Homo sapiens: one gene and its partners. The protein of the gene in region 2 interacts with the protein of the main gene of each other region in a biochemical or structural test. Each region holds a gene or a part of one and is shown on either strand. Other genes may lie near its edges. The genes, in order: COP1, STK40 and TLK1.

What was found.
Region 1: the proteins of STK40 (region 2) and COP1 interact in a test that uses a peptide from one of them, tested with the Homo sapiens proteins (one study listed by BioGRID).
Region 3: the proteins of STK40 (region 2) and TLK1 form a complex in vitro, tested with the Homo sapiens proteins (one large-scale study listed by BioGRID).

What each region holds. Positions count from the first base shown.
Region 1 is NC_000001.11:175,990,763-175,994,415, forward strand, and holds part of COP1 (E3 ubiquitin-protein ligase COP1), read right to left. Parts: intron 1-3,653. UniProt on the Homo sapiens protein: E3 ubiquitin-protein ligase that mediates ubiquitination and subsequent proteasomal degradation of target proteins.
Region 2 is NC_000001.11:36,379,320-36,382,972, forward strand, and holds part of STK40 (serine/threonine-protein kinase 40), read right to left. Parts: intron 1-3,653. UniProt on the Homo sapiens protein: May be a negative regulator of NF-kappa-B and p53-mediated gene transcription.
Region 3 is NC_000002.12:171,003,865-171,007,517, reverse strand, and holds part of TLK1 (serine/threonine-protein kinase tousled-like 1), read left to right. Parts: intron 1-454; coding exon 455-546; intron 547-628; coding exon 629-718; intron 719-874; coding exon 875-1,044; intron 1,045-1,235; coding exon 1,236-1,371; intron 1,372-3,653. UniProt on the Homo sapiens protein: Rapidly and transiently inhibited by phosphorylation following the generation of DNA double-stranded breaks during S-phase. This is cell cycle checkpoint and ATM-pathway dependent and appears to regulate processes involved in chromatin assembly.

The DNA of each region.
Region 1 (3,653 bases), about 140 Mb from region 2:
CTGTTCGACCTAAATATAGCCATTCTACCATTTTTCTTGACTACTACTTACATGGTATATCTTTTTCCATCCTGTTACTTTAACCTATTTGTGTCTGTGAATCTAAAGTCTATCTCTTGTAGACAGCATAAAGCTGGATTCTAATTTTTTTTTTTTTGTAAACCCATTCTGCCAATCCCTGAATGTTACAACATTCAACATACTTACATTTAATATAATTATTAATAGGTTGCACATCTGAAATCAAAAAATCCCAAATCCTTGCTTTTGGAGTGCCAACATTTCAATCAAAGCTCCAAATGCTTCTTCATTGGAGCATTTCAGATTTTGGATTTGAGATGCTGAACAGTAAGTACAATAATACATACTTAACAATGGAGATACATTCTGAGAAATGTATCATTCAGCAATTTCATCACTGTGTGAGCATACAGTGTACTTTCACAAACCTAGATGGTATAGACTACTACACACTTAGGTTATGTGGAATAGCCTATTGTGCTCCTATGCTACAAACCTATGTATCATGTTACTGTACTGAATGCTGTAGGAAACTGTAACAATGGTAAATATTTACGTATCTAAATATAGAAAAGCTACAGTAAAAATAAGATATAAAAGGTAAAAAATGGTACACACCCATACAGGGGACTTATGATGAATGGAGTTTGCAGGACTGAAAATTGTTTTGGGTGAGTTAGTGAGTGGTAAATGAACATGAAGGCCTAAGACGTTAACAGTATACCTAGGCTACACTAAATTTACTGTAAAAAAGTGTTCTCCCTTCAGAAATAAATCAACCTTACCTTACAGTGATTTTCTGACTTTATAAACTTAAAAAATTTTTAAAGCTTTTTGACTCTTGTAATAACACTTAGCTTAAAACACATACATTGTACAGCTGGACAAAAGTATTTCCTTTTTACATTTCCTTATAAGTTAAAAAATTAAAATAGGAAAAAGCTTTTTAAACTTTTTTGTTAAAAACTAAGAAACAGAAAGTTAGCCTAGGTCTACACAGGGTCAGGATAATCAATATCACTGTTTTCACCTCCACGTTTTGTCTCACTGAAAAGTCTTCAAGGGTAATGATATGCATAGAGATGTCATCTTCTCTGATAACAGTACCTTTTTCTGGAATGTCTCCTGAAGGGCCTGCCTGAGGCTGTTGTATAGTAACTTAAAAAAACAAGTGTAAGAAGTACAGTCTATAATAATGGTAAAAAGTAAATAATAAACAAGTATATAGTTATTTATTATCTTTATCAAGTATTGTGTAGTATACGTAATCGTATGTGCTAGACTTTTTGAACATTTTTAATTTTTTTTGAGTATTATAGTTGGTATATACACTTATGTGGAATATGAGATGTTTTGATACAGGCATGCAATGCATAATAATCACATCATGGAGAATGGCGCACCTACCTCAAGCATTTATCCTTTGTGTTACAATCTAATTATACATTTTCAGTTATTTAAAAATGTACAATGGGAGGTGGAGGCAAGATGGCCAAATAGGAACAGCTCCAGTCTACAGCTCCCAGAGTGAGCGACGCAGAAGACGGGTGATTTTGCATTTCCATCTGAGGTACCAGGTTCATCTCACTAGGGAGTGCCAGACAGTGGGTGCAGGAGAGTGGGTGCAGCGCACCGTGCGCGAGCCAAAGCAGGGTGAGGCATTGCCTCACTCGGGAAGCGCAAGGGGTCAGGGAGTTCCCTTTCCTAGTCAAAGAAAGGAGTGACAGACGGCACCTGGAAAATTGGGTCACTCCCACCCTAATACTGCGCTTTACCGACAGGCTTAAAAAATGGCGGACCAGGAGATTATATCCCGCACCTGGCTCGGAGGGTCCTACGCCCACGGAGTCTCGCTGACTGCAAGCACAGCAGTCTGAGATCAAACTGCAAGGCGGCAGCGAGGCTGGGGGAGGGGCACCTGCCATTGCCCAGGCTTGCTTAGGTAAACAAAGCAGCTGGGAAGCTCGAACTGGATGGAGCCCACCACAGCTCAAGGAGGCCTGCCTGCCTCTGTAGGCTCCACCTCTGGGGGCAGGCACAGACAAAAAGACAGCAGTAACCTCTGCAGACTTAAATGTCCCTGTCTGACAGCTTTGAAGAGAGCAGTGGTTCTCCCAGCATGCAGCTGGAGATCTGAGAACGGGCAGACTGCCTCCTCAAGTGGGTCCCTGACCCCTGACCCCCAAGCAGCCTAACTAGGAGGCACCACCCAGTAGGGGCAAACTGACACCTCACACCGCCGGGTACTCCTCTGAGACAAAACTTCCAGAGGAACGATCAGAGAACAGGACTTGCGGTTCACGAAAAGCCGCTGTTCTGCAGCCACCGCTGCTGGGACCCAGGCAAACAGGGTCTGGAGTGGACCTCTAGCAAACTACAACAGACCTGCAGCTGAGGGTCCTGTCTGTTAGAAGGAAAACTAACAAACAGAAAGGACATCCACACCAAAAACCCATCTGTATATCACCACCATCAAAGACCAAAAGTAGATAAAACCACAAAGATGGGGAAAAAACAAAGCAGAAAAACTGGAAACTCTAAAAAGCAGAGTGCCTCTCCTCCTCCAAAGGAACGCAGCTCCTCACCAGCAACGGAACAAAGCTGGATGGAGAATGGCTTTGACGAGTTGAGAGAAGAAGGTTTCAGATGATCAAACTACTCTGAGCTACAGGAGGAAACTTAAACCAAAGGCAAAGAAGTTGAAAACTTTGAAAAAAATTTAGACGAATGTATAACTAGAATAACCAATACAGAGAAGTGCTTAAAGGAGCTGATGGAGCTGAAAGCCAAGGCTCGAGAACTACGTGAAGAATGCAGAACCCTCAGGAGCCGATGAGATGAACTGGAAGAAAGGGTATCAGTGATGGAAGATGAAATGAATGAAATGAAGCGAGAAGGGAAGTTTAGAGAAAAAAGAATAAAAAGAAATGAGCAAAGCCTCCAAGAAATATGCGACTATGTGAAAAGACCAAATCTACGTCTGATTGGTGTACCTGAAAGTGATGGGGAGAATGGAACCAAGTTGGAAAACACTCTGCAGGATATTATCCAGGAGAACTTCCCCAATCTAGCAAGGCAGGCCAACTTTCAGATTCAGGAAATATAGAGAACGCCACAAAGATACTCCTCGAGAAGAGCAACTCCAAGACACATAATTGTCAGATTCACCAAAGTTGAAATGAAGGAAAAAATGTTAAGGGCAGCCAGAGAGAAAGGTCGGGTTAACCACAAAGGGAAGCCCATCAGACTAAGAGGGGATCTCTGGGCAGAAACTCTACAAGCCAGAAGAGAGTGGGGGCCAATATTCAACATTCCTAAAGAAAAGAATTTTCAACCCAGAATTTCATATCCAGCCAAACTAAGCTTCATAAGTGAAGGAGAAATAAAATACTTTACAGACAAACAAATGCTGAGAGAATCTGTCACCACCAGGCCTGCCCTAAAAGAGCTCCTGAAGGAAGCACTAAACATGGAAAGGAACAACCCATACCAGCCACTGCAAAATCATGCCAAATTGTAAAGCCCATCGAGGCTAGGAAGAAACTGCATCAACTAACGAGCAAAATAACCAGTTAACATCATAATGACAGGATCAAATTCACACATAACAATATTAACTTTAAAGGTAAATG
Region 2 (3,653 bases):
AGTTCTGGGGAGCCTGAACTCACACCCAAGACTGACTGTCATGGCCAGGAGAGAATGAACACCGTTGGGTTGTAGCCTCTTTTTTTTTTTTTTTTGAAACGGAGTCTCGCTCTCTCACCCAGGCTGGAGGGCAGTCACTGCAAGCTCCGCCTCCTGGGTTCACGCCATTCCCTGCCTCAGCCTCCCGAGTAGCTGGGACTACAGGTGCCCACCACCACGTCCGGCTAATTTTTTGTATTTTTAGTAGATACAGGGTTTTACCGTGTTAGCCAGGATGGTCTTGATCTCCTGACCTCGTGATCTGCCTGCCTCGGCCTCCTAAAGTGCTGGGATTACAGGTGTGAGCCACCGCGCCCGGCCTGGGTTGTAGCCTCTTTAGGGAGTGGGAACACCTGTGTTCCCCTCAGGACGTACGACCTCAACCCAAAAGAACAGATTCACTTGCTGGGGGAAAAATAAGGCTGCCCCAATTTATTAAAAGGAGACCTAGAAATTCTTTAACAATAATAATAATAAAGGATAGTCTTTGAGGCAGCAATTCACTTCTAGAAATTTATCCTGCAGATGATACCTAAGGTGGGCAAAATCATATGTATGAAGAAAGTCACTTCAGCAGAAGTGTTTAGAGAGTAGAATGCAGAAAATAACCCAAGTGTTTGTTAGCAGAGAGCTTGTTGAATAAATTACACTCACAGTGGGACACATCATAGCCACAAATGACCCAGACCTGCATGTGCCAAAGTGGAACTATCTCTAAGATAGTAAGTAAATCACAGCAAGCAATTGCATCCTTTCCCCTCTAGGATCTTGATTACAGAGCCTGGGAGGATATGCGGGGGCTGCTGTGGGCCCTCGACTACCTTCGAGGTCAGAGTCTCACCTGAGCAGGTGGAGGAGAAAGAAGTGCTCTTGTTTCAGATCATTTTCTCGTTTACTTTCTTTACACCACAAACCCAAGGACAAATCATGTAAAAAAATCTCCCAAATTCCAAAGGGCCTGTTTGAAGGCCCGCCCACCAGCACACCCCTCACTATAGTCCAATCCAGCTGAGGGACAGCTTCTGGCTCCCTTAGAACTTCAAGGGTCAAGGACACTGGGCAGCTTTCTCTCCCTTCCCTGAAGGTTCTGAGCAAGTCCTGGGTGGCCTCTGGCAGATATCAGTCCTTCCTGAGAAGAAGGACTGAATCTGCTGAGCCAGCTTCAGGCAGCAAATCCAATTTCCAGACCTCTCTCTAGATAAGATCTCCAGGGGGCACTGAGAAAGCCTCTCTCCCCTGAGGGTCTCTGCTGTTCAGGACCCCATCAGTGGGCTGTAGTATGCTGAATCGGGGTGGATATTGCCAGAGGGAAGGGTTGCTCTTAGGGCTATTGGAAGGCTGAAGATTTATCGCTTTATAGATGTGAAACATGAAGAGGTTCACCTCCCTGGTTAAATCTGGGCAGAGGAAAGGTGAAGGAAGGAAAGCTGCCCTTCTCCCAGGTGCTGATTCAGGCGAAAGCAAAGGGAAGCCTGGCCCAAGTCCAGACAGGGGTCTACAAGACCTTCCAACTGATCCTCTCCCGAGAGGGTGTGCCCAGGGTTTACTGAACGAAGCTGGCAGATTTCACTGGCCATTATCTTCTCCTTGAGCCATCCCTATCTCTGCACTATCATTCACTCTGTCACCCAAACCAAGGACCTCAAGGTTACCTGTCACCATTCCTCCTCCCTCTGGCATCACTTCCAAACACTCCCAGAGTCCAGTTGATTTCCCCCCAAACAGCTCATCTCTGCTCTTCTTCTCAACCCTATTGCCTCTGCCCTGATCCAAGCCCCTCTCAGCCCTTGCTGGGATTACTGCAACAGCCTCCTATGGGGACTCCAACCTCTCCCCAACCCACTCCATCCTCCAAAGCAGATGCAGGTCTAATGGTATGTTTCCTCCACTTAATGCAAGGCATCCATCACCAACAGAATACAAAATTCAAGCATCTGCGCCCTAGTGCCTGCCTACCTCTCAGGCACATCCTGCAGTCAGTCCCTTCACACTCTGGGCTAGAACTCCTGTGGTTCCTAAAGTGCCACACAAATTACCACATATCCGTGCTTGTGCCAGGCTGCTCCCCCTGCCTGGAGGGCTTCATAGACCCCCAGAAAACTCTATTCATTCTTCACGATCCAATTCAAGTTCTTTTTTTGAGACAGGGTCTCACTCTGTTGTCCAGGCTCGAGTGCAGTGGTGTGATTACAGCTTACTGGGAGTTGGGAACTCCCAGGTTCAAGTGATCCTCCCACTTCAGCCTTCCAAGTAGCTGGAACTACAGGTACATGCCACCACGCTTAACTAATTTTTTTCTTTTTTAATTTTTGTAGAGATGGGGTCCCACTATGTTGGCCAGGCTGGTCTTCAATTTCTGGGCTCAAGCGATCCTCCTGCCTCGGCCTCCCAAAGTGTTGGGATTACAGGTGTGAGCTGCTGTGCCCAGTCCCAGTTCAAGTTCTAAGGGCTCTCTGAAGTTCTCCCCAGTCTCCTCCTCATCCTAGAGCTCGATCACTTCTTCCACTGGGTTCCCCCACATGCTATAGACTTCTGTGAGAGACTTGCCAAACTGTGCACATGTTAACTGGTTAGGAGCCTGCCCCTAGATCACAACCTCCTCCATGGTAGGGCCTGCCTCTCCATCCTCCTCCTGCCCCCAGGACCCAGCAGAGCCCCAGCCACACATGGGAGCTCATGTATGTGGAATCAGGGCTCTGTATTTTGAGCTACCACACTCATCAGTGTGTGTGATGCCTCTTGATGCTGCTTATTCAGGTACCAGACTAGGGTTGCTAGCAGGGACACACAGAGAAGAAATTCTAAATACATTTACTCCCATGTATACTTTTTTTTTTTTGAGACAGGGTCTCACTGTGTCACCTAAACTGGAATGCAGTGGTGCAATCTCGGCTCACTGCACCCTTGATCTCCTGGGCTCAAGAGATCCTTCCACCTCAGCCTCCCTAGTAGCTGGGACTACAGGTGCGTATGACCATGCCCAGCTAATTTTTGTATTTTTTGTAGAGACGGGTTTCGCCATGTTGCCCAGACTGGTCTTGAACTCCTAGGCTCAAGCGATCTGCCCATCTCGGCCTCCCAAAGTGCAGGGATTACAGGCGTTAGCCACCGCGCCTGGCCAACCCATGTATACTTTAAAGTACTATTTTTTTCTCAGCAGTCCTACTTCTATTTTTAAAAATAGTTCTTTTAAAGAGCCAAACTGAATCATCTGCATGGCTCCCATACAGACTGGGTAAACTCCCCTTAGATTTTCTTTTCAGAAAGAATAAAATAAAACTCTGTGATCTTGTGATCCCTCAGGACACTTCTGACAGCTCAATGGGACATAGTTCTAGTTGCCATGAATTGCTGCAACTAATTCCTAAAAGTTCTTTCCTGTAGCCTGTAATAAGAGCTAACATTTACTACTCAGTGTCTGTTAAGTACTCATCCTGTAACATCTTACTTACTCCTCACAACTGCCCTATTACGAAGGTACTCTTATTGTCCCCATTTTACAGATGAGAAAGCTGTGGTGGAGAGAATAAGTAATCCCTAGTGACCAGCAGGGATAGAAGTAGAACACAGATCTGTCTGATGGCAGAGCCAAATAAGCTTTTTTTTTGAGACAG
Region 3 (3,653 bases), on a different chromosome or scaffold from region 2:
ATAACTGTTAGGAACTTTTTAATTTTTCTAAAAAGTGAGAAAGAAATAGGGGGTTGCTAGGAAAAGATAGATTTAAAAGGTTTTATCCAACCTACAAAAAAAGTGGTACAGTCATCTGTTTTCCTGGCTGCTTACTACTAGTATAGAGGAATAAGTCCATATTAAAAACAAATAATAGCTTTATTGTTTTATTTTTATTCAGTATATTGGCATTTATAAAATTTAATGTGAAAATTCACATTAAGGTTTTCTCTGATTTATTACCATGGAATTTCTGTCTTCTGATAATAAAAGTGTCATTGAGCTATATATAGTCTTAGCAGAGAAGATCATTAATAATTGTAGGGTTTGTCCTAATTCCATATTATTGCAAAAATTATCACCAAAATAAAAAACATCTCTTCAGCTATTCAATTGGTCTTTCATCTTAATTGTTTTTGACTTGAAATCCTAGGCTTTTGACCTTTATGAACAAAGATATGCTGCTGTGAAGATACATCAGCTTAATAAAAGCTGGAGAGATGAGAAGAAAGAAAACTACCACAAGTAAATACTAATACTTTATGGTTTTTTAAAATTGAATATTTTTTGAATGATCATGGAGAATTAATACACTGTCTTCTCATAGACATGCCTGCAGAGAGTATAGAATACACAAAGAACTGGATCACCCCAGAATAGTTAAACTCTATGATTATTTCTCCTTGGATACAGATACGTAAGTGAATATTAAGGTTCAATTTTTAAGGAAAGATATGCTTGCTTTCTCTTTCCCCATCCTGTGTTGATGATATAAATACTCTCCATTTCCCCATTGTGATTCTGAATTCTTGGATATTACTTATGTCTAATTTTTTTCTCTTCTCTGTTGTAGGTTTTGTACAGTGTTAGAATACTGTGAAGGCAATGACTTGGATTTCTATCTGAAGCAACACAAGTTAATGTCAGAGAAAGAAGCTCGGTCTATTGTAATGCAGATTGTAAATGCACTAAGATATCTCAATGAGATCAAACCCCCTATTATACATTATGATCTTAAGCCAGGTAATTATGAAATTTGTCTAATTTTTTTTAAACTTGAGTATAGTTTTTAAAAGTCATTCATTAAGTTATCTGAAAACATGTTTTTTGGTTTCTCTTGTAAGACATCAGTAAAATACTAGTAAAATTAAAAGTTATTAAAGTTATGTTTTTCATGTATGTATCATTAAAAGAATCTTATATTTTATTCTTAGGAAACATCCTACTGGTAGATGGAACAGCATGTGGTGAAATCAAAATCACTGATTTTGGTCTGTCCAAGATTATGGATGATGATAGCTATGGTGTAGATGGAATGGATCTAACTTCCCAGGGGGCAGGCACTTACTGGTAAGTGTATTACTAAAAACATCAGAATGTCTAGATTGGTGCCCAGTGCTTTTATAATAATTTAGTGTTTTTTTTTTTATTTCCATGTAGCCATTAAGATTACTGTGGTAAAGGTACTGATATTAAGCTCTCAGTTGAGAGGGAGACTTCTGTGGTCATTCCTCTTTTCTCATCTGTTCTTAACTGCAAATAACAGCATACTGGAGAGAGAATGACCTGGCATTAACAAGTGACTTCAGTACCTGCCAGTCAGAAACTCCTAACAGGAAGAATTCATTCATGGGTTTTCTTCTACAATGTTAGCGTGATGTTCATCATAAATATAAATACTTATGTTAATATAATATTTTAACTATTGCAAGCAAAAACTGCAAGCATCAAGCCCTCTCTGTGGAGGTTATATGGTTGCAGGAATTTTCATTTTATTTTGAGACAGGGTCTTGCCCTGTGCAGTGGTGTAATCTTAGTTCATTGCAGCCTCAAACTCCTAGGCTCAAGCGATCTGCCCACTTACTCTTGAGTAACTGAGACCACAGGTACGCACCACTATGCCCAGCTAATCTAAACTTTTTGTAGAGACCAGGTCTTAATTTGTTGCCCAGGCTGGTCTTGAACTCCTGGTATCAAGTGATCTGCCTCTCCCAAAGTGCTTGGATTACAGGCGTGAGCCACTGCACCTGGCTGGTGGTTTTTGTGGAAGATGGATGTTTTGTTGGCTGTGAATGGGAGATAAATTTGGCATATTCTTTGGACTTGACTTTCAGAAATCCCTTTTAAAGACTTGATATGTCTAGATTTAAATTTAGATATAATCACAGATTCATAGATATAAATCTAAATGACTGTCATCCCCTCAGTATACCTACGTGTTCACAAAAACTACTTCAGTGTGAATTTTCAAACTTGTTAAATTCACCAAAGTGGAGAACATAAACTATAAAATTTCAAAACAAACTTAGTTCTCAGAGAAAATTAGTTTAGCATAAAGAGTGACATTTTAATGGAAGAAAGATAACTGCGTTCAACTTCATTGAAACAGGATTGTGACTACAAACATAAATGTGACTTCAGGTTTTCCAGAACAGTATTCACACAAACTGAGCACATCATAACCACTTACACACGATGCCACTGTCTGTATAGATTTCACTTTTAATGAGCAGGGATTAGTCATATTCATGTATTCTTTTAAAGCCACTTTCAAATTTTAAATTTGGCTTGTGGCATTTCCTAGGAACATGGATAAGATAATAATGTCATGAATTTTTTCTTCATATTTTAAGAAAACTATTCAAACTGGTAACCCCCTGAAAGTCAATATTCTCAAAGTCTTTGGACTTTTTTCTTTTAGCAACAAGGCTCATTTTTTTTTTTAACAACAAAATCTTATTCTAATAAAACCAACAAAAACAAAGCATCTTGGTAGAATCTTAGATTCCATGGAAGATAGCTTGAAAACCATGTTCTAAACAATAAATTATTCTTCGTCTGCAGGACATTCTCATTATTTGTTTCTCTCTCACTCTGGCTTCACTAGTATAGGGAAGGACAAGGAAATTTCCCTTTTACAGATGTTCGAGGGACAAAGAGCTTATGTTTCAGGGGCTGTACTGGAAGGAGATACAATAATGGCATTGTTCTATAGGAACATGGAATGTATTTCTCATGGAAATCTGTGGTCCAAAAATTGGTTTATGTCTACAGTCATATTAGTTGTTTAGCTATGTACAGCTGACCTTGAATAATATAGGTTTGAAATGCATGGGTCCACTTTTATGTGGCTTTTTTTTTTCCGATAAATACATTGGAAAATTTTTTGGAGATTTGCAACAATTTGAAAAATCTCACTGACGAACCATGTAGCCTAGAAATATTGAAAAAATTGGCTGGACACGGTGGCTCACGCCTGTAATCCAAGCATTCTGAGAGGCTGAGGCGGGCGGATCACTTGAGGTCAGGAGTTCGAGACCAGCCTGGCCAACGTGGTGAAACCTCGTCTCTGCTAAAAATACTAAAAGTACAAAAGTTAGCTGGGCATGGTGGCCATGCCTGGAATCCCAGCTACTTGGGAGGCTGAGGCAGGGGAATTGTTTGAATCCAGGAGGCAGAGGTTGCAGTGAGCTGAGATCATACCACTGCACTCCTGCCTGGGCGACAGAGCAAGACTCCGTCTCGAAAAAAAAAATACTGAAAAAATTAAGAAAAAGGTATGTCACGAAGGCGTGAAATATATGTAGATACTTGTCTGTTTTACCATTTACTGCCATAAAATGTACACAAAT